Linked DNA regions of Homo sapiens. The protein of the gene in region 2 purifies or fractionates together with the protein of the main gene of each other region. This does not show direct contact. Each region holds a gene or a part of one and is shown on either strand. Other genes may lie near its edges. The genes, in order: RAI14, MYO1C, DEK, RBM33, TMOD1, SDCCAG8 and SPTBN2.

Region 1 (3,500 bases), on a different chromosome or scaffold from region 2:
AGAAGTTATCCAAGTGCAGAAAGAAAGTAGTAAAATTTCTATTTAGACTTATTTTTAAAAATCAAGAAATTAAGCTTTATTTGTAATTACATTGATGGTAGAAAACATGTATAGCCGTAGAAATAAATATACCTATATAGGAAATATATGCTGCAAAATGTTTTACTAATGTTTTAGAAGCTAATTAACCTTCTTCCCAGTTTAGAAAAAAAAAAAAAAGTGCAGCTCTCTGCCAGAGCTCATTTAATTTTATATAAACACACTCTTTGAGGCTGAAGAAAATCTGACTGATTTTCAATGTGAAAATAAAATATAAAAACTGTTCTTGGAGTTATTTCTAAACAGAACTAACACCAGAATCATCTGTCTCAGAAAAATCGGATTCATCAAATGAATCTTCAGCCAAGATCTCTTTGAGAACGATATTAACATCACACATAGGAATGCTACGTTTTCTAGGATTTGACATTTTCAGTGGTCGAGAATTACTACATTTTGTAAATGGAAATACCACTACTAAAAACAGAATGCTATAAACAGAATGATGTCTTTTGTTTCCAAAGTCAATACACTAGAGTGATGGGAAAATAATAATAATAAAAATGAGATATTTCGTGGCAAAGTTATCTTGAGGTAAATGCTGTATCCCCAAACGCCACTGGTGAGTATTCTTGGAGCAAATGGGAAAAGGGTTAAGAGTAATACATAAATCCATTTTGCAGAAGAGAATCTAGGTTGAAAAGCAATAGAATTTGCCCAATACTTAGTTGTCTAAAACAGGAGTACCCAACCCAGGGGCTGCAGATCAGTACCAGTCTGTGGCCTGTTAGGATCTGGCTGCACAGCGGGGAGTAAGTGGCAGGCGAGTGAGCAGTACTGCCTATAAGATCAGCAGCAGTACTGGATTCTCATAGGAGCACAAACCCTATTGTGAACTGAGCACGTGAGGGATCTAGGTTGTGCACTCCAATGCCTGATGACCTGAGCTGCAGTAGTTTCATCCTGAAACCATCCCCACCCCCATCCATGGAAAAATTATCTTCCTCAAAATCAGCCCCTGATGCCAAAAAGGTTGGAGACTGCTAGTCTAAAGTCTCAGTGACTCTAGAGGTATCCCATTGAGCTCTAGAAACCAATGTCTACCTCTGCCTCTAGTGACCACCTGGTACTTACCAAATCTTTGAGGTTTATGGGGCTCTTGTGTTCGCAGAGAATCTGCACAGCTTGAAGGCAGCCCTGAGCCGCTGGGGGAAGGAAAATATAAATACCACAGCCAATCACACAGTTATTCACAACCAGGGGTATCAGATACTTCAGGAAGGAAATGTTCATGTTCTACCCACTCTACATATATTCACTCTAGTTGCATTGAAGAGAAATGGTATTAGGAAGGTTAGGAGTGAGGTGTTTAAAATTACTGCTTAATTTCAGAGTTATGCAGGCCTAAAGCCAATGACTGCCAGTTGCCTTTAGGCAAATATTTGGCTCAGGTTTTCACAGGACTTAGCTTTTCCACAACTAGCAATAAAACACATGTGTAAATCTAATCACTCATAGTTCAGTGTCAACGTTTGTCACTTCAAGTTGTGTAATCATACTAAACAAAATATTAGTAAATAAAATTGACTGATGTTCATAATAATCCTCAAATCAAAAAGTCTGTATCACACATTACCTGAAATCTACAAATGCTTAGAATATCTCTTAGTTTAAAAAGAAACCTTAAATTAGTTAAAATATATTAATCGTGATAATTTTCAGTGGTTAGGTGGCAAAGGAATTGATGAATTCTAGGCATATGCCTCGGTAAAACTGTGTATGTTTTACAAACAGAGTAAAATGGGAATGTTTAGAAATGATGACAGAAAAGAGCACCAGGAATAGTATGGAAGGTTAATGGCCTGAATAAGGAAAAAGAAAAGTTGGTGTTTCTAATGGCAGAAGAAGACAAATAGGAGAATGAAAGTTACCTGCATAATGTAAAGCTGTTTTCCCAGAGCTGTCGACACTTTCGGCTGGGCATTTAGACTATAAGACAAAAATAAATACATCCATATAATAAAATACCCTGCCCCAATTCTATTCAGTTCAGACTTTTCCTGCAAGGTATGATGTGACTTATTAGGAAGACTATTAACATAAATAAGCCCCAGCTGCTGTGTTCCAGGGGCCTACAGTCTCCTATGGGGAAGGAGACTCATGTCTTTGGGATGGGCAAACTCTCCCCTCTTTGCTGCTTCACCTATCTGTTCCTCTCCTTCCCTCATCACTCCAGCACCCCACCAGCTAATAGACATACTCTAGGCTCTCTCATCTTAATCCTTTCTTTTCCCCCATCTCCTGCCCTTTCTGTCCCCCTTCACGAAACCAGCTTTCTCTTAAGGATTACCCACATGCAGTCCACGCACCCTCACCTCCATTCACTCCCAAAACCACTGCAGTTGGGTGTCCCCTCTCGAGTCCAAGGAGATGGCCTTGGTCAAGGTCACCAAAAACCTTCATGTTTCCAATGACGATAAACATTTCTGTCCTCCTCTCTCCAACCTCTCAGCTCCTAGAGCCCTGCTTGGCTCATCTTATTCTGCTTTTCCTCTTGCGGCTCCTCCTCTAGCCAAACAGAAAACCTCAGGGCTCCTCAGTGTTCTTCCTCTAAGCTCTTTTCCCTGGTAAGCTCCTCCACACCCACAACCTGAAATATCATCTAGAAGAATGAACGCTAGTGACTCCCAAATGCGGAGGTCCTAACAGTGACAACAATAAGTGCTATGTAAGTATTAGCTCTCACGTGCCAGGCACTGTTCAAAGAACTGCTTTATGTCCCCTAACAACACGAGGTGGATACTATCATTACTTCCACTTTCAGATGAAGAAACGGAGGCACAAAAAAGTTGATAATTTGCTCAAGTCGCAGTAAATGGCAGAGCCAAGATTCAAACTCAGACAGGCTGGGCTAGGGCCTGTATTCTTACTCATACACAAAAGTTGTCATCTTCAAGCGCTAGGCTTGATAACCCACTGCCTACTTCACATCTCTGCTCTGATGTCTTATTAGCATCTCAAAGGCCCAGCCAAAATCTCTGGCTTCCCCTCCCCCGTGCCCCACCTGCTCCTCCCTGACTGCCTTCTCCATCAACAGCATCATCATCAGTCTAGACATTGAGCCAGAAACCAGCGATTCAGCTTTGATTCCTCCTCATCCTCCACCCCCTTCCCCGACCCCTCTTCCTCACCCCACATGTAGTGGACCACCATGCCCTGTCAACTTTTTTCTCCAAAACTCGCCTCCACTCTACCCTCTTCCCTTTCTTGTTCCCGACACCCTTTTCTAGGACAGCGTCTTCTCACCTGAACAGCTAAGGTAGCCTCCTGGCACGTCTCCCCAGTTCTGCATTTTTCCCCTTTTTATCAATTCTCTAAAGAAACAGAATTCTCTTTTAAAACTGTGACTCTCACTGTCTACTTAAAAGCCCCTCACACTTCCATGCTGTACTTAGGATGAA
Region 2 (3,500 bases):
CCAATGTCCAAATACGGCCGGCGCGCCCGGCGGGCGGAGCGTTCTCCGTGCGGGACGCCGTCCACCCACACGCGCCGGGGCCTGGTCCGAGCCTCGAACCCAGGAAGATCTTGGTTTTCCTCGTCAGCACGGAGCTCGCGCCCCAGGGACAGGGACGGCCAACGGGTGCCCTGGCCGAGCGCGCGGAGTACCCGGCCCCTCTGGAGGGCTCAGTTCCCCCTCTGGGAAATTCGCGTCCCCCCCGCCCACGGCATTTGGGGCCCACAGCCTCTCCCCACCCGGGACACCCCACTCGCCTCTGGGCCCGGACCTCCTCCCTCCCTCCTTTTTTTTTCTGTTTTTTTTTTGAGACGGGGTCTTGCGCTGGCTCCCAGGTTGGAGTTCAGTGGCGCGATCTCGGCTCACTGCAACCTCTGCCTCCCGGGTTCTAGCGATTTTCCTGTCTCAGCCTCCCGAGTAGCTGGGATTACAGGCGTGCGCCACCACACTCGGCTAATTTTTGTATTTTTAGTAGAGACGGGGTTTTACCATGTTGGCCAAGCTGGTCTGGAACTCCTGACCTCAGGTGATCCACCCGCCTCGGCCTCCCAAAGTGCTGGGATTCCAGGCGTGAGCCATCGCGCCCGGCCCATCTCCCTCCCTGCTTTGAAGGGGGCCTCCCTAGTCCCTCCGGATCTCCGGGACGCCCCCCACCTCCGAAGCGGCCTCGGCAGAACCTCCCTCGCTTGGCTCTGCGGGCACCACCCTCCCTCGCCTGGGGCGAACCTTGGCTCAGATCCCACCGCGGGCAGGGGCGGGGACGTCTAGAGTCTGCAAAAGGCTGGGCTGGTTCTTCCTCGCGGTGGGACTCTGAGCAAGTCACTTAACGTTTCGGCTTCTGTTCTTCATCCCTAACATGAGGCTAACACAGGCCTAGAAGGGCCGTTGGGTGGCCTGAGATAGAGCGTGAAGGCACCTCCAGACCCCCTATAGACCTCGCTGCCCCCACCCGCCGCCTTCCCTCGGCCGGACGCTCATTTCTCACTTGCTTGCGGGCAGAGGCCTACTGAGAGCCAGGCCGTGGGCCACGCTTCCGATCCGGTGGGGAGAGCCTCAGGCGCGTCTGCAGGCACCTGCCTCCTCCACCAACACAACGGCGTACACAGACTCGCCCTGGTGGGGTTAGGCAGAGCGGGAACCCAAAGCCCCAGCGCCCCACCCCCAGCTCGCGGACCCCGCTCCCTGGGGAGAGGGCGAGGCTGCGGCAGGTGCGGGCCGGATCCTTGCGGGGAAGGCTCGTCACTGCAACAACCCGGCCGGAGCGGCGGCCCTGGGGACCCCCGAGCGGGGGCACCAGCTGGTGGGGGAGTGGGAGCGGGGGAGGGGGAATGGCGGCGTCTCGGACAGAGGCGGGGGAGGGCGGGAGGAGACGCCCGCTGCGGTGCCCCCAGGTTTAAAATCTAGAGGGAGGGCCGGGCGCGGTGGCTCACGCCTGTAATCCCAGCGCTTTCGGAGGCCGAGGCGGGCGGATCATCAGAGTTCAGGAGTTCGAGACCAGCCTGACCAGCATGGCGAAACCCCCTCTCTGCTAGAAAATACAAAAATTAGCTGAGCGTGGTGGTGGGCGCCTGTGTAATCCCAGCTGCTCGGGAGGCTGAGGCACGAGAATCGCTTGAACCCGGGAGACGGAGGTTGCAGTGAGCCGAGATTGTGCCACTGCACTCCAGCCTGGGCGACAGAGCGAAGCTCCGTCTCCAAACAAAACAGAACAAGGAAAATCTAGAGGGAGCAAGGAGGCGACCCAGCCTCCAGCCCGCCCAGGGGTGGGGAACGTCCTAGAAGACGGGGTAGAGGGTCAAGAGAGCCCCTCCCGGAAGCTCAGCTCTCTCCCTGCCCCGCGAGGCGTGGGGGACTCGGGCCGGGGGCGTGGCAGGAGCCAGCGGGGGCGCGGCCAGAGGACGGGGCGGAGCTTCGCGGCCGCAGTGTCCGCCCCGCCCCTCCACGTCACGCGGTTGGAATGAGGGGAATCCGCGCGCGGAGGGGTCGGGCCCGCTTCTTCCAGTTCCCGGGCCGCGCCGCCGCATTCCCGGGATGCCCGCTGGCGCCCCCGCAGCCACCGCCCGGCGGCGGAAGGAGGGGGCGTCTCCGCCGCTCGCGGGCCCCAGGGCGGCTCCAGCACTGGCAACCCCCGGCCTGCCCCTCCTCACTGGACGGAAGCGCGAGCCCCGGGCGGGGAGGGAAGCGGGGAACCTGGGTGGGAAAGACGCCGCGGCTGAGGCTGCAGCGCCAGGCGCCTCCTGCGTTCTCCGCGCTTTCTTGGGTTACTCCTTTCAGTGACGCCAGCCAAGCCGTGAGGTCCGTATCATCACTCCAATGCAGAAGAACTTGAGGCTGGGCAGGTGACTTGTGCAAGGTCTCAGGAGGAGTGGGACTGGAACCCGGGCACTGGAACACCTTACTGCAGGGCTGCCCTGAGCCTCTTTGTGCGGTTATCAGGGCTACCAGGGCTGTGACCTTCAGTGACACCGTTCAGGCCCCTGTCGGTGTCGTGTGATTCTATTATGTCACATGTGGGCTTTAGGAGTGGGCCAGGGCCTTTGGCTCTGGGCCTAGAGGTTCCCTGCAGGCCATGGCCCCTGAGTGACATAGGAGACTTCTTCCCCAAGGCTGCCTCTGGGTCTTCTCCCACCTGGGGAGGCATTTACTGGAACCACAGGGGATGGGGTGGCCCAGCAGACCTGGGCTATCTAGTGCCCTTCAGCTCCTATAGGCCAGGTGCCTACAAGCCTGACTTCTGCGGACAGCGGAAAGCTCAAATGTTCCCCCAGCCTAAGGGCACACAGATCTTGCCATGGGGTAGGGGTGTTGGGGGCTGGGAGGAGGTGTCATCTGAGGCACCCGGGACTGCTGCTATAAACCGATGTCCACTGAGCCCAAGGCAGCAGAAAGGCAGCCACAGCTTGTCTCACGGGTGGCACAGAGCAGGGCTTCAACTTCTGTTTATTAAACAAATCTTAGATCTGGGCCTGGCTGCCCACCAAGGACCGTTCCAGACCTCAGGGAATTGTTGTGAAGGGAAATGGGGAGGAGATAGTGGCGACTTAGGGTCTCTACCCTGATTGCTCACAGGGCCTTGGTCAAGGACTGTCCATTCTAGCTACACAACCATGGATCTTTGGCTGCCAGACACCTCTGCCTGGGGGGTCCAGCAAACGTGAACAGAGGCAAGGTGCAGTGAGTGGCTCACACCTGTAACCCCAGAACTTTGAGAGGCCGAGGTGGGAGGATCGCTTGAGGCCAGGAGTTCAAGACCAGCCTGGGCCACATAGTGGTGAGACCCCTGCCTCCACTAAAATTTTTTTAAAAAGTTAGCCAGGCATGGTGTGTGCCTGTGGTCCCAGCTACTTGGAAGGCTAAGGTGGGAGGATTGCTTGAGCCCAAGAGGTTGAGGCTGCAGTGAGCTGTGATGGTGCTACTGCACTCCAGCCTGGGTACCCCAGAAGACCCAGTGTCAAACAAAC
Region 3 (4,148 bases), on a different chromosome or scaffold from region 2:
CTTGTTTTTGATCTCACAGGCTCATAGGTGGAAGAAACTCATCTTCAGATGAAACTCTGGACTTACAGATTTGGGACTTCTGTGTTAATGCTGAAACAAGACCGGACTTTGGGGGACTACTGCGAAGGCACAACTGAATCTTGAAATGTGAGAAACATATGAGAGTTGGGGGACCGGGGGTGCAATGATATGCTTTGGATGTTTGCCCCCTCCAAATTTCGTGTTGAAAAGTGATTTGCAATGCTGGAGGTGAGGCCTGGTAAGGTGATTAAATCATGGGGGCAGATCCCTCATGAACGGCTTAGCATGGTAATCCGTGGTGGTGAGTGAGTTCTCTCAAGATTTGTTTAAAAGAGCATGGCACCTCCCTCTACAACTTGCTCCCACTCCCAAATGAAATGCCTGCTCCCCCTTTGTCTTCTGCCATGATTGGAAGTTTCCTGAGGCTTTCACCAGAAGCAAATACTGGCGCCATGCTTCTTGTACTGTCTGCAGAACCACGAATCAATAAAACCTATTTTCTTTATAAACTACCCTGCCTCAAGTGTTTCTTTATAGTAACGCAAAAAAAAAAAAAAGCCTAATACAGAAAGTATTTCACTGTCTGGCTTCCATGATGCCTCAGTTCTAAAGTTAAATATTCAGGGTTAAGTAAAATAAAAACTTTCACAATTCTACTTGTCCCACAAACACCTCAAATTAGTAAAAAGAATAATAAATCACAGCTACAATAAAACTATTAGGGGATAAAATTTCTACAACATCATGTTTTTAAAAATAATTTGTCTAGAACAAAACATGGGATTCTTTCAACTACCAACTCTTCCCCAAGCATTACTGTGTTGGCCACTTACAGTATATTTACATGACTTCTCTAATTTTTTCCTGACATGAAGAAAATTCACCATTTCTTTGGCATCTCAACCCTGCCCCCACCAGAAGACCAAAATACAAACAAAAAATTGGAGAAAAAGTGCAGAGCCTCTTTGGCTAGCAGCGAGATAGTGCAGCCAATTTTGTTGTTGTATTAAAAATAATTTTAAAATAACATGTTGTTAAGCAATAGTTTATGTGAAAACTTATATTTAAAAAGCCATGCTTTACTTAAATATGCCCTTCTTAGGGCACATACCACTTTAAACAAACAAAAGGCACACCTTGTAATCTTAACCCAGATTGTGACCACAGGCTGGTTGAGGCTTAAAAAAAATCCGGGTTTAGGAAGAGCGCTTCAACCTCTTCCCAAGTGTGGCTGAGTCGTAAACATATACGAAATAACCGCAGACTAAGCTAATATCAAAGAATGCTAAGAGATGCGACTCGGATTTTTAAATGTTTGGAAACATGTCAAGAAGCGGGTACACCTGAAACAGACACTGCATGCATCCTGGATAAACTGCCGCAGCACACTCCTCTATTCAGTCAAGTTTCCGTTTCACACCTCCAGTCAAATCAGGGCTCATATCGCCCTCCCTTAAAACAGACACAGGTTCGAAACCGAGACAGTGCTGGGCTCACATTTAACTTTCTTTCAGAGTTCACTTTCTTCATTTTTAACTACTTTCTCAAGTAGCAACAGCTTTCACCGCTGTTTGCCAGGGAGGGAAACTTTTTGGTAAATGTAAAAATATTCGAAAGTATTCAAATACTTCCGGGTCTAGCCTTATAACTTCAGTCTTAACGGGCTGCACCAAGACCTTACAATAACTTCAAAAGGCAAAAGATGTGTAATGAAAAGGACAAAATTAGAACATCCACTTAGCAACTTCAAAGGTGCACACACACAGGTAAAAAAAAAAATCAAATCCAAGACCTACAAACTTCCCGTCAAATGATGAAATGTTAACGAACGTTTAGAGCGGACGAGAAGTCGGCTGCACTCCAATACATCTCTACCACGCTAACAAATACTTTAAAAACCGGAATACACAAAGTCAATTCTACGCCATCGCTCAAAACAAAAGCAGATAAATTGTGCACACATTCTCGCTGAAAATCACTCCGACTTCACGCCTCTAAACACCAAAAGAGCAAGAAAACTGTTTCCTGGGTGAAAAATACAAAAAAACTTCGGTCTGAAAAATTCATCAGTTGGGATGCGACTCCCCCCACCTTTTTCCTCCTCCTCCTCCTCCTCGTCGTCCTCGTCCTCTTCCTCCTCGCTCTCCTCTCTGGGACCGGGCATTTCGGGTTCTTTCTCGGACGCGGGCTGGGTGGGGGTTCCCTCCCCCTCCGCAGCAGGGGCCGAGGCGGACATGCTGTGAACCTGCATGCGGGAAGAAAGCCGGACGTCTCGGTCCTCCTACTCCCGCAGGCAGGACCGGGCGGCCACCCTGAATGATGCTACCCTTCCCGCGGGACACCTGCCCTGAAAGTTGCCTCCTCCCATAGCCGGGACCGCAGCGCTCAGTCCCCAGGGGCGGCTTCCCTCCCGCTCCGCCGCCGCCGTCCAGGGATTCCCGAGGCGGGAAACCGCGCCCGCTGCCCCGCGTGCGCGCGCGCCCGCCCGGCCTGCGCTGTTCCCGGCCCGGCCCGAGCTGCCGGCCCTCCACGTCCCCTCCCCCGCCCCAGGCCGCCGTCCAAATGGCCGCGTCCCTCCCCCGTCGGCCGCGGCAGGGGCGACCGGGCCTCCGGCGTCCCGAAGCAGCCCTTACCGCGGATTTCGGCCGCCGCGGGCCTGGCACGCGAGGGCACGAGGAGGTTCTGGGAGGCGGCGGCGGCCGACGCCGAGGAGAAGGCGCGCGGGCCGCTGTCTGGCGTGACGCTCGCGCCGCGCGCTCGGCTCCCCAGAATCAACAAGATTTTCAAAATGGCGGTTCGGGAAGGAGAGCGGGAATGCGGCGACCAATCAGGGCCGCGAGCTGGGAGTTGGCGGGCGCGGGGCGGGGGAGGCGGGGCGGCCGGGTGCCTCCGCGGGAAGCTCGGGCGGGCGGGACCGCGAGGGGTCGCCTCGGCCGCGGGCGGAGGGATGCGCGCGCGGGGCTCTCCCCGGCTGCGCCTGGAGTGTGGTCGGCGCTCGGGCCCCGGAGTGCGGGCGGGCTGTGTCCCGCGGGGCGGGCGGGAGCGGGAGGCGAGGCGGCCTGGCAGCGCGGAACGGAAGGACGCTAGGGGGCCTGCGTGTTTATTGTTTCCACGGTCGCTTCCTGGAAAAGATGATGAGCAGTCCCGGGCCGCGGAGGGGCGCGGCGGGCGCGGTAAAGAAGTTTAGAGATCTCCGAAGTCGCTATCGACAGTGTTACTCTGAGGCGGAGGAGAATTAATCAGCGGTCTCATCAATGCTCCAGAAATCATGCTGGGTGATAGATAACTCCCAAATCTGTATTTCTGAGGACCGCATCGCTTGTAAGGTGCACCGAAAGGAAAAAGATCCTACCTGCCACGTTAAAGGTTCACATAGCCAGCCACATAGATTTACACCCCTGTAAATATAAGGGGAGAGGCTCCCTCCCACCCCATTCCTTCTCCTCTCCTCTCTCACACACACTCTCTGTTTTATAATAGAGGAAATATGTTATTTGGCCGGGTCCAGACCCTTCTCCCAGAGTTCTAGGTCATCTATGCAGATGCTTTTTACACATTCAACACTGCAGACACTCAAAGCAGTATCTTCCCTGCTCAATGCTGCCTTCTTTTGTATGTGATTTCCTTTATTTTCTCCCAACTCTTCAACCACTAGCTCACCTGAAGGATCCTTGTACTCAGTGGACTTAATAGAAATGTGATCAGTGAAATTTGCCTGGACTCTGGGTTGCAGGACAAAAATTAGACATTTCCTTTGAATCTTCCCTTTTCCTTTTGTTCCCCTTCCAAAACATACGCGAATAGTGTCATTTCTACCCTCAAACGGTATGCCATTTTCCACACTATTTATCCCACTCAAATCCTATCCACACTCCACAGCTCATCTCTCCTTCTTGCTGCCTGCAACGTGGTTGGGAGTGGGGGGTTGTGTTTCACCCCTATTTGTGTTACAGCTCTTTCAATCCTACCATTTGGCAGGTCCTGAGTTCTGGTCCTGTGTCCAGGAAGAGTGAGGCACGCAAACAACTGGAGGGTGAGCAAGGTGGACAGGAGCTTCACTGAGGGACAGAACAGCTCTCCTGAGACCTGAAGTGGGTTGCTCCTTTCTGCAGGGGGGTTGTCCCGAC
Region 4 (3,500 bases), on a different chromosome or scaffold from region 2:
TGATCTGCCCGCCTCAGCCTCTCAGAGTGCAAGGATTACGTGAGCCACCATGCCTTGGCATGATACATTTCAAAGGAGTCATTTGGTATTGCAGCCAAGTAGTAAGGATAGAGAAATGGAATTGCTATCCTTACTAATAGCAGAGAGAATGACAACTGTTATTTATTGGAGACTGAAAACAAAAACATAAAGGCAAAAACATGGCATTTTGGGGAAGGAACAAATAGTTTAATGAGTTTCAAGATCTTCTAGTTCCAGTGCTTCCTTGTAAAATATAAAATAAAAAATCAGTACACAAATCGTAAAAAGCCTCCAACCTAGTGAGTGCGTTATCTCACTTAAGATTTACAACAGCATTCTTGGGCCTGAGCTAATCTGATTTTATAGGTGAGGTGAAAAAATGGGTGCTTGTAAATTTTTTGTTTTCTAGTCAATTCTTAGAAATAAAAAGTTTTAATGGGAAATTTCAAACACATCCAGTAGTAGAATAATGAACCCACATACCCATCACCTAGCATCAACATTCTGGCAATCTGTTTTCATCCCCCCACCTCCACTTTTGTATATTTCAAACAAATCCTAGGCTGGTAAAATTTTAGAGCAAGATACACTGCTGGGATGAGTTAAGACTTTAGATACTAAACCAGTTGCTTTAATTTACATTTGATAGTAAACTAGCCGAGAAAAGTTCAGCCACCTAGCTGTTAAGAAAGGGAAGTAGACTCGAATTCAGGTTTTTTGACTTCTAGTTCAGTGTTCCTTCCACTGTGTCAGTATGTAGTAAGGCAGGAAAGTATGAAGCATGGTGCAGAAGGTTTTCATTCGAAATTGTGAAAGTGAAACAAGTTTTAGTACTTCAACAGGTAAAATTTACCTGGTAGGAAATTTTTGGAGCATTTTAATCACTAATAGTGCTGATAAATGAGATGTTTTCATACTGATAATTATGTGTGTATTTAATTCTTTTTTTTTTTCCTTCAAGAAAATCTTTCATGCTTAATTTCTTAGCTTCAATCAAGAGAGTTTGAGGAGTCGGGAAAGAATAGCCTTTCTCATTTCAGCCATGAGTACTTTTAGCATTTCTTGTAGGGCAGGTGTACTAATGACAAAGTCCCTTAGGTCATACCTGGGGATATAATTTTTGAATGGCAGTTTGAAATATTTCATCCTATCACCTTCTGGCTTCCATCGTTTCTGATGAGAAATTGACTGTTAATCTTATGGAGGATCCTTTGTACATGACATGTCACTTCTCTCTTGGTGTATTCAAGATTCTCTTTGTCTTTGGCTTTTGATAGTGTGATCATAATGTGTTTCTGTGTGGGTCTCCAGATTTATCCTGCTTGGAGTGGTGAGCTTCTTGAATATGTAGGTTCATGTCTTTCACCAAATTTGGAAGCTTTTTATTTTTTTCTCCAGTTCTTTTTCCTGCTACTTTGTTTTCTCCTTCTGGGACTCCCATAATGCATAGATTGGTACTTTTAATGATGTCCCCGTTTTTTAAGGCTCTGCTTATTTTTCCTCTGCTCCTTAGACTGGATAATTTCAATATTTTCCTGTTTCCTCACCTATAGCACCCTTGTTTTCTTCAGAACGTTTATCTCAATTTGTAATTTTCTTTAGTTATTTACTTGTTTTTTAAATCTGCCTCCCACATAAGCCTGTAAGCCTCATGAGGAGAAAAAATGCTGTTTTACCATGCATTCCACATCTTCCTGGCACATAGCATGTGTTAGATATTTGGTGAATGAATTAAAGAATGACATATTTTCTGTATGAATCTGAAAAAATATAATTGTATCCTAATTTATGTTAGTCAATTCCACATGATTCACCTGTGTAACTGATTAAATCATGTTAGCTTGATTTTTTCGGTCCCTCAGTTTTGGGACTGAAAATTGGACATTTTAAATATGGTGATGTGGAAATTTTGGAAGTCAGAATGTCCCCCCCCTTTTCTGGGTTTGCTATATTTCTTGTTGTGGCCTTCAGTTGTCTGGTTTTTTAATGACTTGCCAAATGAAGAGACTCTATTCCTTGTCTCCTGTGGTCACTGATGTCTCCATTGTGTTGTATCATTGCCCAGCCAGTGATCTGATGGAGATGTCCTCAAATGGCTGGAGCTGCAAATAAAACAAAACCAAAACCAAAAAACAAACAAAAACTCCTGTGCTTACGTTACTTCATTGCTCATCCAGGCCACCTATAACCCCAACCTTAGCCTCACCTTCTGCATATGCGTAGCTCAAAGATCAGCCAGAGGTATAAATCTAGGGTTCTTTCAAGTTGTTTTCTGAGCATGTGCCCAGCCTTCAGCATATGCATGGTCTTCCAGATTTCCCATTATACATGGGAGCCCCCAACACTCTCATTCCTTCATATATTTTCCTCCTCAGCCTCTTCTTTCCCAGGCTTTTCAGTTTGTATGTTGCTAACCCTGGCCATCATCCCTTGCCCCAGGTGACCCTGGTTAGTGGATGTCTTTAAATGCTTTTGACAAGCACTGCCTGGGATGCCGCTCTAGCTCTGAGAGAGTTCTGAAGGGGTGGTCTCTGAGCTGATTCCTCAGCTCAGGTCACAATGCACAATCACAATTTTTTGAGGACAGGTTCTTATTGACCCCTTTAGCATCACTGCACCAGGAGCACTGACTGCCATCCCCAGTGCTGCCTCTGAGCTGTGAAACGCTTTCTCTGCATCTGTTGTGATTATGTGTTCTTCCCCTGTTCTTTAATCTCTTAATGTAATCTATTGATAGATTTCCAGTGCTGAACTAAGCATGCATTCTGGGGTTCAAAATCTTGATCTCCACATTTTGTTCTTTTTAATATATTGTTGGATTTCATTTTAGGATTTATCTCTGATCATAAGGGAGACTGACTTACTGTTTTCTTCCTTGGTATTTGTGTGTACATTTGTGCTATCCTTTTATTTATGATATGTTGGTTTTTAGAATGAGTTGTGAAATTTTCTGGGATGGTGTAAAAATCTGTTATTGACTGTGGAAGAACTCTTTTCTCCAGAGCCATTTGGGTCTGGTTCCCTTTAAAAAAGTTATCTTTTCAATTTCCTGTATTATTATTGATTTATTTAGTTTTATAAGATGAAAAGTCAATTACGATCATTTAAATTTTCCTAGAAAAATTATTCTTTATGTTCAGATTTCCACATTGATATAGAGTTAAGCAATGCCACAGCTTCTTTTTGTTGTTGTTGTTGTTGTTTTTGTTTTGAGACGGACTCTCGCTCTATCGCCCAGGCTGGAGTGTTGTAGTGGTGTGATCTCAGCTCACTGCCACCTCCACCTCTTGGGTTCAAGCGATTCTTCAGCCTCAGCCTCTCAAGTAGCTGGGATTACAGGCACATGCTACCACACCCAGCTGATTTTTGTATTTTTAGTAGAGACGGGGTTTTGCCACGTTGGCCAGGCTGGTCTGGAACTCCTGACCTCAGGTGATCTGCCCGCCTCGGCCTCCCAAAGTGCTAGGATTACAGGCGTG
Region 5 (3,500 bases), on a different chromosome or scaffold from region 2:
AAGTATTGCGATAGAAGAAATTCAGGGGTTGTAACTGAGGGGAGAAGGGTTTGCAAACTCTCATCTCTTTTCGAATCTATCTGGTAGAGGCCACGGATTTAGTTAAAGCAGAGTTTCTCAACCTCAGCACAACTGACATTCTGGGCTGGACACTTCCTTGTTGTGGAGGCCACTCTACCCACTGGAGATTGTTTAGCAGCCTTTCTGCTCTCTATCTCCTAGATGCTAGTAGCACTGCCCCCAGTTGTGACAACCAAAAATGTCTCCAAACATTGCCACATTTCTTTTATTTTCTTCCTTTTTTTTTTTTTTTTTTGAGATGGAGTCTCACTTTGTTGCCCAGGCTGGAGTGCAGTGGCGTGATCTCGGCTCACTGCAACTTCTGCCTCCCGGGTTCAAGCAATTCTGTCTCAGCCTCCCCAGTAGCTGGGACTACAGATGCCCACCACCATGCCCGGCTAATTTTTGTATTTCTAGTAGAGGCGGGGTTTCACCATGTTGGTCAGGCTGGTCTTGAACTCCTGACCTCAGGTGATCCACCAGCCTCGGCCTCCCAAAGTGCTGGAATTATAGGCATTAGCCTCCATGCCCAGCCACCAAATTTCCTTTGAGGGGCAAAATTGCCCCTGATTGAGAGCCACTGCATTAAACAAAAAGCCATATAATTATAACATGTTATATAATACAGATTTTTTAATGTATTTCAAAAATATTATTTACATAACATAAAAATATGGCTTCATTTATTCAAGTCTTTATTGAAAGCAGTTGATTTGTAAAAACAAAAATGTCAAAGGCCTTTTCTAATAACTCTAAGCTTATCACATTTTTAAAGTAAATATTGAGAATATCAGCCTCATTAGAGGTTAAAGTTTGTTTTCTTTCTATTAAATGGTATGTTTAACAAAATATCACATGATTGTCAGTAAAACCAAAGATAGATGCATATTTTTAAACTCCTGATTGTTTACCACTTTAACTCGTTTTCAAAAACAGCATGTGATCTCCCATTATATATAAAAACTCAAAGTGAATCAAAGACCTAGATATAAGAACTACACTATAAAACATTTGGAAGAAAACATAGGCATAAATCCTTCTGATTCTGGATTAGGCAATGGTTTCTTAGATAAGATATCAAAGCAATAAGCAACAAAATAAAAAAGTAGATTACTTGGACTTCATTAAAATTAAAAACATTTGTGCTGCGAAGGACACTAGTGAGAAGACAAACCACAGATTGGGAGGAAATATTTGTAAATCATGTATCTCATAAGAGTTTCATATCTAGAATACATAAAAATCTCTTACAACTCAATAATATATGACAAATAACCCAATTTAAAAATGGGCCAGGCGTGGTGACTCACACCTGTAATCCCAGCACTTTGGGAGGCCAAGGTGGGTGGGTCACCTGAGGTCAGGAGTTTGAGACCAGCCTGGCCAACATGGTGAAACCCTGTCTCCACTAAAAATACAAAAATTAGCCGGGCGTGGTGGTGCATGCCTGTAATCCCAGCTACTCAGGAGGCTGAGACATGAAATTTGTTTGAACTCAGGAGGCAGAGGTTGCAGTGAGCTGAGATCACGCCGCTAGACTCCAGCCTGATCAACAGAGTGAGACTGTCTCAAAAAAAAAAATAAAAAATAAAAAATAAAAAATAAAAATGGTCAAGTGGCTGGGCACAGTGGCCCATGCCTGTAATCTCAGCACTTTTGGGAGGCTGAAGCAGGCAGATCACCTGAGGTCAGGAGTTCCAGACCAGCCTGGCCAACATGGCGAAACCCCGTCTCTACTAAAAATACAAAAATTAGCCGGGCATGGTGGCGCACATCTGCAGTCCCAGCTACACGTGAGGCTAAGGTGGGAGGATCCTTTGAACTTAGGAGGCAGAGATTGCAGTGAGCTGAGATTGTGCCAATGCACTCCAGCCTGGGTGACAGAGCTCCATCTCAAAAAAATAAAAATAAAAATAAATAAATTTTTTAAAATGGGCAAGTGATCTGGATAGACATTTTTCCAAAGATTATATAAAAATGGCCAAAAAGCTCATGAAAAAATGCTCAATACTATTATCCATTAGGGAAATGCAAATCAAATCCAGAATGAGATACCATTTCACAGCCAGCAGGATGGCAATAATAAAAAAACACAGATAATAACAAGTACTGATGAGAATATAGAGCAACTAGAACTCTCATACACTGCTGGTAGGAATGTAAAATGATACAACCCTTTTGGAAAATAGTTGTGCAATTTCTCAAAAAGTTAAACATAAAGTTACCATATGATGCAGCAGATGTATGTCCACCCAAATGCTTGTACACGAACATTTATAACAGCATTATTCATAATAACAAAAGTACGAACAAGTCTAATGTTCACCAGCTAATGAATGGATAAGACAAATGTGGTATACCCATACAATTGAATATTATCAGCTGTGAAAAAAAACGTAGTACTACAACGTGAATGACCCTTGAAAACATCATACTAAGTGTAAGAAGCCAGATACAAAAGGCCATGTATTATACAATTCCATACAATATATGAAACGTACAGAACAGTCAAATCTGTAGAGACAGAAAGTAGATTAGTGGTTGCCTAGGGCTGGTGTTATGGACTGGAATGTGTGCCTCCAACTCATACGTTGAAGCCCTCACCCCCAGAGTGACTATAATTGGAGACAGGGCCTGTAAGGAGATCATTAAAGTCAAATGAGGTCATAAGGGTGGAACCCTGATCTGATAGGATTGGTGTCCCTATAAGAAGAGATACCAGAGAGCTGCTGCAACACCTCCTTCCCCAACCAGTCACCGTGAGAACACACAGAGAGAAGCTGTTGTCTGTAAGCCAGCAAGAAAGTCTTTACCAGAAACTAACCCCTCAAGACCCTGATCTGGGACTTCTAAGCCTCCGGAATTGTGCAAAAATAAGTCTCTGTTGTTTAAGCCACCTAGTCTGTGGTATTTTGTTAGAGCAGCCTAAACAGGTTAATACAGCTGGGAAGGTTGAAGGGAGATGGAGAGTGACAGCTAATGGGCATGAGGTTTCTTTTTGAGGTGATGAAAATGTTCTAAAATTGATCATGATGGTTATACGACTCTGTGAATATGCTAAAAGAACAAACCAATGAATGGCGCATTTTTGTTTTCTTTTTCTTTTTTTCTTTTCTTTTTTTTTTTTTTTTTTTGAGACAGAGTCTCACTCTGTTGCCCAGGCTGGAGTGCAGTGGCATGATCTCGGTTCACTGCAAGCTCCGCTCCCCACCTCCAGGTTCACGCCATTCTCCTGCCTCAGCCTCCTGAGTAGCTGGGACTACAGGCGCCTGCCACCATGCTCGGCTAATTTTTTGTATTTTTAGTAAAGACGGGGTTTCACCATGTTAGCCAGGATGGTCTCGATCTCCTGACCTCGTGATCCGCCCGCCTCGGCCTCCCAAAGTGCTGGGATTACAGGCGTGAGCCACCTCACCCGGGCTGAATGGTGCACTTTAAGT
Region 6 (3,500 bases), on a different chromosome or scaffold from region 2:
AAGTGGCCGCATAAAAATGCAAAATGCTTTCCCTATTTTCCGTGATCGTACTTCCATTTTAAAAAGATCTTTTCCTGGGGCCGGGCGTGGTGGCTCACGCCTGTAATCCCAGCACTTTGGGAGGCTGGGGCGGGCGGATCACGAGGTCAGGAGATGGGAGACCAGCCTGGCTAACACGGTGAAACCCCGTCTGTACTAAAAAAAAAAATACAAAAAACTAGCCGGGCGTGGTGGCGGGCGCCTGTAGTCCCAGCTACTCAGGAGGCTGAGGCAGGAGAATGGCATGAACCCAGGAGGTGGAGCTTGCAGTGAGCCGAGATCGCGCCACTGCACTCCAGCCTGGGCGACAGAGCGAGACTCTGTCTCAAAAAACAACAAAAACAAAAACAAAAACAAATTTCCTTATTTCTTTAATGTTGGTACTATTATGGTATATCAAAATTTGAAGTTCTAATGTGAAAACTGAGTCAGCATTTACTTTCTTGTTTTTAAAATGAGGTTGGGCGCGGTGGCTCACGCCTGTAATCCCAGCACTTTGGGAGGCCGAGGCGGGCAGATCACCTGACGTCTGGAGTTCGAGAACAGCCTGAGCAATATGGAGAAACCCTGTCTCTACTAAAAATACAAAATGAGCCAGGCGTGGTGGCAGGCGCGTGTAACCCCAGCTACTCGGGAGGCTGAGGCAGGAGAATTGCTTGAGCCTGGGAGGCGCAGGTTGCGGTGGGCGGAGGTTGCAGTGTGCTGAGATCGCGCCACTGCACTCCAGCCTGGGTAACAAGAGTGAAATCCTATCTCCAAAACAAACAAACAAAAAAAGATATTTTCCTCATTTCTTTAATTTTGGTACTATTATGGTATATCAATAATTTGAAGTTGTAATGTGAAAACTGAGTCAGCGTTTACTTTCTTGCTTTTAAAATGAGATCCTTGCCTCATTTTGACCTTGATGATCTTGGAGCAGCTCCACATTCACCTTTCATCCATTCCCTTACACTTTTCAGTGGATTTGCTGTTTGACTTCTCTAAAGATATCTCTTGCTTTGGGTCGCCTATGCCCTTTTACAAGAAATTGGAGACATTTAATGATTCTTCTTCAAAACGAGAGTTCTGGCAGAAAAACCGGAAGGCTTTGTTGCCCCCACAGATCTGTTGTATTATTCCTACATAGTAAATGGTCTGAAAGTTTCCAGTGTGGTTAAAAGTGTATGTGTCCTGGGTATCCTGGGAACCACAGAATTTAATCTAGAACTGGAAGTGATTTGGGAGGTCTCTTGGCAGTAAGGTTAGGTGTTCATTTACTCTATGGGTAGTTATAATTCAACAACCACAGAATGGCCGAGAACTACATTTGTAAGTGGGCAAGATAGCACATGCGCCTTCTCTAAATTCAATACATCGTTGTATAAAGCCAAGAGGTATGAAATGAACTATTTCATAGCCAAGAAAGGGTGAAAAAAGCCACAATTATAGGCAATCCAGGCTCTATTTTAAGTACTGCACACTTGAGTGTAAGGGGATATCAGAAAGGAGAAAAATTGCTAGAAATGCAGTATTTTAGCCTTAATAACAGAATCATGTCTCATCTCTTGCTGCAGCGTTGGGAATAGATAACAATTTTATCAACAACACCTGTATACATGACTCACCTATTCACCTCATTCCTAGCCACCTTTGGTTGGGTGAGTATAAGGAAAAATGAAACAAACTTCTTGTATGACAGGAACTCATGATTTTCTATATACATTTTGCATTCTGGTTTTACCTTTTTCTGTCAACATTTTGGTGTTTCAGCCTTTAGATGAATTTATGGGAAGAGTGTGGTGGGGTCAGAGGAGAGAATGTGGAGCTGGGAGCCAGGTCACTGCACTTACTTTTGCTTTGCTGACAACCATCTGGGTAACCTTAGGCAAGTGAAACACACTGTTCTTGGATTCCCGTTTCCTCAACTGTAAAACGAAAAGTTTGGACTGGATGTGAGAATTATTGCCTTTAGGTGCCAAGCAAATGATCAAAAGGTATGATGGAGTCAGTGGAAGACATTAAGGGAAATGATGAGGCTTATGGCCAAATTGGGCAGTTTCTGCTTTTTCTAAAAACATTTCAATTTCTTCCTTGCTCCCTCCCTCTTTGCTTCCTTTTTTTTCTTCTCTCTTTTTCCCTCTTTTCCTCCCTCTTTTCTTCCAAGAAGGAAGCCAAGCAAAACACACCCAGAGCCTGATTCCCCTTTAGACACCACTCTCTGACCCTTTGATCATTAATGTTCCTTCCATCAGCACTTGTTTGGACCAGATGAATGATTAAGGGCTATGTTTTTGTCTTATGGAAATGAGAGTAAGGAGTTGAACCAGGTACACAGAAAGTGAGAGGATGAATATGAGAAGAAAATATATAATCTCAGGGATGGGCCTTGTCTTTACGAATTGATGTAGTTCAAGAAAACCAAAGATAAGGTTGACTTTCTATGTTTTGCTTGTATATGATTAGCACATCTATCCAAATCCTGCAAAGTGGCTCACAATTGTAGAAGGGCTGTGTTAGTCTTACTAGCCAACAATTTGGTCAGTGTATTAGCCAGCAGTGATATCATCTGGCTGTCTTAAGAAAACATATGTGTAACTCAAATAAGTATTCCTGTTTTCTTATAAAACTTGTATTTCTTTTTTGCTTTTCTCAAATATTTTCTGGATTTTTAAATATTGTTTGCCATATGCACTATATAGGAATATACACACATAAACATGAGGGGTTTTTTGCTGATAAAATTCAAATTATACATATTCATCTTTTGTTTTATATATTCATGTGGCTTTTCTTTTTCTTTTTTTTTTTTTTTTAATCTCAGCTCACTGCAACTTCCACCTCCCAGGTTTAAGCGATTCTCCTGCCTCAGCCTCCCGAGTAGCTGGGTTACAGGCACGTGCCAACACACCTGGCTAATTTTGTATTTTTAGTAGAGACGGGGTTTCTCCATATTGGTCAGGCTGGTCTCAAACTCCCAACCTCAGGTGATCTGCCTGCCTTGGCCTCCCAAAGTGCTGGGATTACAGGCATGAGCCACGGTGCCCGACTTTTTTTTTTTCTTTTGAGACAGGGTCTTATTCTTTTGCCCAGGCTGGAGTGCAGTGATGTGATCTTGGCTCACTGCAACTTCTGCCTCCTGAGTTCAAGCGATTCTCCTGCCTCAGCCTCCCGAGTAGCTGTGATTACAGGTGCCACCACCACGCCCGGCTAATTTTTTTATTTTTAGTAGAGGCAGGGTTTCACCATGTTGCCCAGGCTGGTCTCGAACTCCTGGCCTCAAGTGATCCACCTGCCTTGGCCTCCCAAAGTGCTGGGATTACAGGCATGAGCCATTGTGCCTGGCCTCATGTGGCTCTTCTTAGTGCCTTTAACTTTTATGATCTTTTATTTTACTAGAACTTAAAAGTACAATCTCAATTTTTCTTTCCTACTACTGATGAGATAAAATTGGCAAAAGACAGGATTTAGCAACCAGAAAA
Region 7 (3,500 bases), on a different chromosome or scaffold from region 2:
CGTGTCCAGGAGTTGGTCTTCCTGCCCCCAAGCTGCCTGTGAGCCTCTGCCCTCTCCCATCCCATCCCCAGTACTCCCCCACCCGCACTCACCACCCCCTCTGGACCCTTCGCCTCACAGTTATCAACACCACACTTGCAGGGGAACTCACCGGCCCTTCGGGGAAGCTGCTGTGCTCAAGTCTCTGTTGTCCCAGCAGGGGCTGCAAGGACAAGAATCTGTAAAAGGATGTGCGGGGGTGGAGGGGCTACGACTCCGATGGGGGCACAGAGGGACAGTGGGGTCACCTGTGAGGGCTCTCCATCTGTGCAGACTCCATTAACACTGGGTGCTTGTGTGGATGGTGGTGGCCGTGGCTGGGTTCTGGGATGACCAAAGGCAACACAGAATCATTAGTCCCTGGGTGGCCTGGGCTCAGCCGCCTCCTCCTACCCAGGCATCCTGGCTCTCACCCGTCCCAGGTGGTGTCAGAAGCTGTCTGGCCGCCCACCAGGTCCCCTGGAGGCACACTGGCTGTGGGTTCGGGAGCAGGCGGCTGTTTCCGCCGCTCCTCCTCCTCCCTCTTTCTCTTTCGCTCCTTCTCCCGCTCCTCTAGCTGTCAAAAAATGCTGCATTCAGCGTGTAGAAGGTTGCGTGTAAGAGGGCCAGGGAAACAGGGAGAGCTGAAATGTCTCAACTCTAATTTGATGAAATATGATAAGAGGAGAACAGAATTTGAGAAGATGGTGGGGACAAGAAACAAAGCGGGAGAAGGTGTCTCGGCATCACCCAGGGGAACTGACACCTCCTAAAGGTGTGGTGACAATGGCACTCTCAGCTCACATCTGGGGGCCACTGGTGCAGTGGGAAGAGAGAAGACATGTCTTCTCCAAGCAGAAGCCAGCACAGGTCAGGGGAGCAGGTTGGAGTGGGCATCCGGGGTCCTGTGTCCCTCACCGCAGTAAGCTTCTCCAGCGCACAGAATCGCTCCTCCCAGGCCACTGCTGACTTCTGGAAGGCCTCGTGCCGCTTGATGAGGCTCTCAACTTCGTCGACCGTGCAACCCAGCTCAGCGCTGCGCACCAGTGGCTCCTGGCTGCAGAGCCAGGCCTCTGCCATCCCTGCATCTCTTCCAAACACAAGCACCTCCAAAACTGGCAGGATCGGGGGTTGCAGGAAGATGGTGGGTCAGAGTGGCCACTGGCAGGGCACAGTGGCCATGGCAACCTCAAGAACAGGGACACAGAGAAAGCCACTGCCCCAGAGCTGTGCCAGGCAGCACGAAGATTGGGCATCGTGAGTTTCACACCCAGGGTTCCTAGTCTCACCTACTCTGGAACCCACAGGGTGCAGGATGCCCCCCACTCCCCACAGGGCCTGGGGCCCCCTTGGCAGCTCACCCAGCTGAAGCCAGTCCATCTTCTCCTGCCACTTCTCAGCTGTCTCCTGGCGCCGTGCCTGCAGCTGAGACAGCTTCTCTGAGATCTGGGGGCGGGGGGCAGAGATATGAGTTAGCACCAGGATGTGAGATCTTTCCACGGCCCCTGGGGAGTCATCCAGGGGGACAGGTGATTTCTTTCTTTCTTTCTTTTTTTTGAGACGGAGTTTCGCTCTTATCACCAAGGCTGGAATGCAGTGGCGCAATCTCAGCTCACTGCAACCTCCACCTCCCAGGTTCAAGCAATTCTCCTGCCTCAGCCTCCGAGTAGCTGGGATTACAGGTGCCCGCCACCACGCCCGGCTAATTTTTGTGTTTTTAGTGGAAACGGGGTTTCACCATGTTTCATCACAGCCCAGCCACACAACCCATGGAGGCCAGGCTGGTCTCGAACTCGTGACCTCAGGTGATCTGCCCGCCTGGGCCTCCCAAAGTGCTGGGATTACAGGCGTGAGCCACCATGCCTGGCCCAGGACCAGTGATTTCTGATGTCAAGAGGCAGACGGTTCTGGGGAGAGATTTCCAGAATGCGAGAAACCCGTGAATGGCACTGAGGGGAGAGAATGAAAGGTTTCTTGCAAAGAGAGAATGAGAGGAAGCAGAAAGCCACCAAGAAGTCAGCGTTCAGCACTGCACAGTGAGAATGGCCCGGCCACCCAGGCCTCACCCACCTCCTCGGCCGCATAGTGGCTCCTGGCCAGCAGCTCCTTCCCCATGTCGATGCAGGAGGAGAAGCGGTCTGCCCGGGCCTCTATCTCTGCCTTGATGCCTTGCTGGTTCTTGATGACTAGATCCGCGGAGGACACATCCCTGGGGGGAGGCAGAAACAGCATCACCTGCTGCCCACAGCCCCATCACAGCCCAGCCACACAACCCGTGGAGGCCCTGAGCCCTGGGATTCTCACCGGGGACGCTCCTGGGCATCCATCTGCAGGTTGACCTCATCCATCCAGAGCATCAGTTCCCGGACAGCCTTGAAGAAGCGGAACTTGTCTGTGGTGTCCAGCAGCAGCTGCCGGCGGGCGGCAGAGCTTCCCTGAAGCTGGGCCCAGGCCTCGGCCACGGCCTGCATGTGGCGGCCGATCTCCTCAGCCTTGTCTCCAGCGTAGGCCTTCTGGAGCCGGTGGCCGTCGTCCTGCACCTGCTGGACCTGCGGAGCCCCGGGTCAGAGTCAGGCAGAGCGGGGGACTCCAAGGAGCCGCAGCCTGCCTCAGTCCTGGCTGCCACTCTCACCTCCTGCCTGTCTCACAGCCAAAGAAGCAGGGGGAGGAGCCAGGGAGTGGGGGTGCTGGGAAAGATGAAGGCAGGGGCTGGCCACACTCTGCCCTGTTGGGTCTCATCTAGACACCTGGGCTTAACTGGGGGAGGATCTGGAAAAGAGCCATTGGCCAGTTGAACTTTCAGAGGCCTGTCTAGGATGTGATAGACCTTGGAGATTGCTAGAACGTGCTACTTAGCCTGAAAAGGGGATTCAGGCAGGGGCTGATGGGTTCTAGTGGTTGAAGGAAGGATCCATGCTTACTGAGTGTGAGCCTAGAGCTCAAGCCTGGGAAGCACTAACAGGCTGATTTAGCGCAGCATGAAGAGTCTCCTGGCCACTGGGAACCCCTGAAGACATCATGGGCTCTCAAGGGGGCTTGTCATCAAAAGTGTGAATGCAGTGGCTAGATGTCCCCTGCCAGAGATGTTTTCTTTCTTTTTGAGACGGAGTTTCGCTCTTGTTGCCCAGGCTGGAGTGCAGTGGAGGGATCTCAGCTCACTGCAACCTCCGCCTCCTGGGTTCAAGTGATTCTCCTGCCTCAGCCTCCTGAGTAGCTAGGATTACAGGCATGCGCCACCATGCCTGGCTAATTTTGTATTTTTAGTAGAGAAGGGGTTTCTCCATGTTGGTCAGGCTGGTCTCGAACTCCCAATCTCAGATGATCCGCCCTCCTCGGCCTCCCAAAGTGCTGGGATTACAGGCGAGAGCCACCGCGCCTGGCCAAACAGAGATGTTTTCTTGGAGCAATTTCCTCATCTCGAAATGGCCCTCGAAAGAGTGCCGTCCTCCCAGCATTTCTGAGCTCTACCCTAGCTCCTGGGA

The links.
Region 1: the proteins of MYO1C (region 2) and RAI14 purify together in Homo sapiens (affinity purification with mass spectrometry; one large-scale study listed by BioGRID and IntAct). This does not show direct contact.
Region 3: the proteins of MYO1C (region 2) and DEK fractionate together in Homo sapiens (co-fractionation; one large-scale study listed by BioGRID). This does not show direct contact.
Region 4: the proteins of MYO1C (region 2) and RBM33 purify together in Homo sapiens (affinity purification with mass spectrometry; one large-scale study listed by BioGRID and IntAct). This does not show direct contact.
Region 5: the proteins of MYO1C (region 2) and TMOD1 purify together in Homo sapiens (affinity purification with mass spectrometry; 2 studies listed by BioGRID and IntAct, with this or other methods). This does not show direct contact.
Region 6: the proteins of MYO1C (region 2) and SDCCAG8 purify together in Homo sapiens (co-immunoprecipitation; one study listed by IntAct). This does not show direct contact.
Region 7: the proteins of MYO1C (region 2) and SPTBN2 purify together in Homo sapiens (affinity purification with mass spectrometry; one large-scale study listed by BioGRID and IntAct). This does not show direct contact.

Annotation. Positions count from the first base shown.
Region 1 is NC_000005.10:34,806,328-34,809,827, reverse strand, and holds part of RAI14 (ankycorbin), read right to left. Parts: intron 3,365-3,500; exon of another isoform or gene 3,346-3,364; intron 2,029-3,345; coding exon 1,971-2,028; intron 1,245-1,970; coding exon 1,174-1,244; intron 1-1,173. UniProt on the Homo sapiens protein: Plays a role in actin regulation at the ectoplasmic specialization, a type of cell junction specific to testis. Important for establishment of sperm polarity and normal spermatid adhesion.
Region 2 is NC_000017.11:1,486,187-1,489,686, forward strand, and holds part of MYO1C (unconventional myosin-Ic), read right to left. Parts: intron 1,487-3,500; exon of another isoform or gene 1,470-1,486; intron 1,044-1,469; exon of another isoform or gene 1,025-1,043; intron 946-1,024; exon of another isoform or gene 766-945; intron 1-765.
Region 3 is NC_000006.12:18,261,731-18,265,878, forward strand, and holds the start of DEK (protein DEK), read right to left. Parts: upstream 2,801-4,148; 5' UTR 2,655-2,800; intron 2,484-2,654; exon of another isoform or gene 2,368-2,483; intron 2,267-2,367; 5' UTR 2,258-2,266; coding exon 2,113-2,257; intron 1-2,112. UniProt on the Homo sapiens protein: Involved in chromatin organization.
Region 4 is NC_000007.14:155,647,661-155,651,160, forward strand, and holds part of RBM33 (RNA-binding protein 33), read left to right. Parts: intron 1-3,500. UniProt on the Homo sapiens protein: RNA reader protein, which recognizes and binds specific RNAs, thereby regulating RNA metabolic processes, such as mRNA export, mRNA stability and/or translation.
Region 5 is NC_000009.12:97,539,666-97,543,165, reverse strand, and holds part of TMOD1 (tropomodulin-1), read right to left. Parts: intron 1-3,500. UniProt on the Homo sapiens protein: Blocks the elongation and depolymerization of the actin filaments at the pointed end. The Tmod/TM complex contributes to the formation of the short actin protofilament, which in turn defines the geometry of the membrane skeleton.
Region 6 is NC_000001.11:243,259,041-243,262,540, forward strand, and holds part of SDCCAG8 (serologically defined colon cancer antigen 8), read left to right. Parts: intron 1-3,500. UniProt on the Homo sapiens protein: Plays a role in the establishment of cell polarity and epithelial lumen formation. Also plays an essential role in ciliogenesis and subsequent Hedgehog signaling pathway that requires the presence of intact primary cilia for pathway activation.
Region 7 is NC_000011.10:66,687,717-66,691,216, forward strand, and holds part of SPTBN2 (spectrin beta chain, non-erythrocytic 2), read right to left. Parts: intron 2,568-3,500; coding exon 2,323-2,567; intron 2,228-2,322; coding exon 2,089-2,227; intron 1,465-2,088; coding exon 1,380-1,464; intron 1,134-1,379; coding exon 937-1,133; intron 596-936; coding exon 453-595; intron 364-452; coding exon 288-363; intron 203-287; coding exon 152-202; intron 1-151. UniProt on the Homo sapiens protein: Probably plays an important role in neuronal membrane skeleton.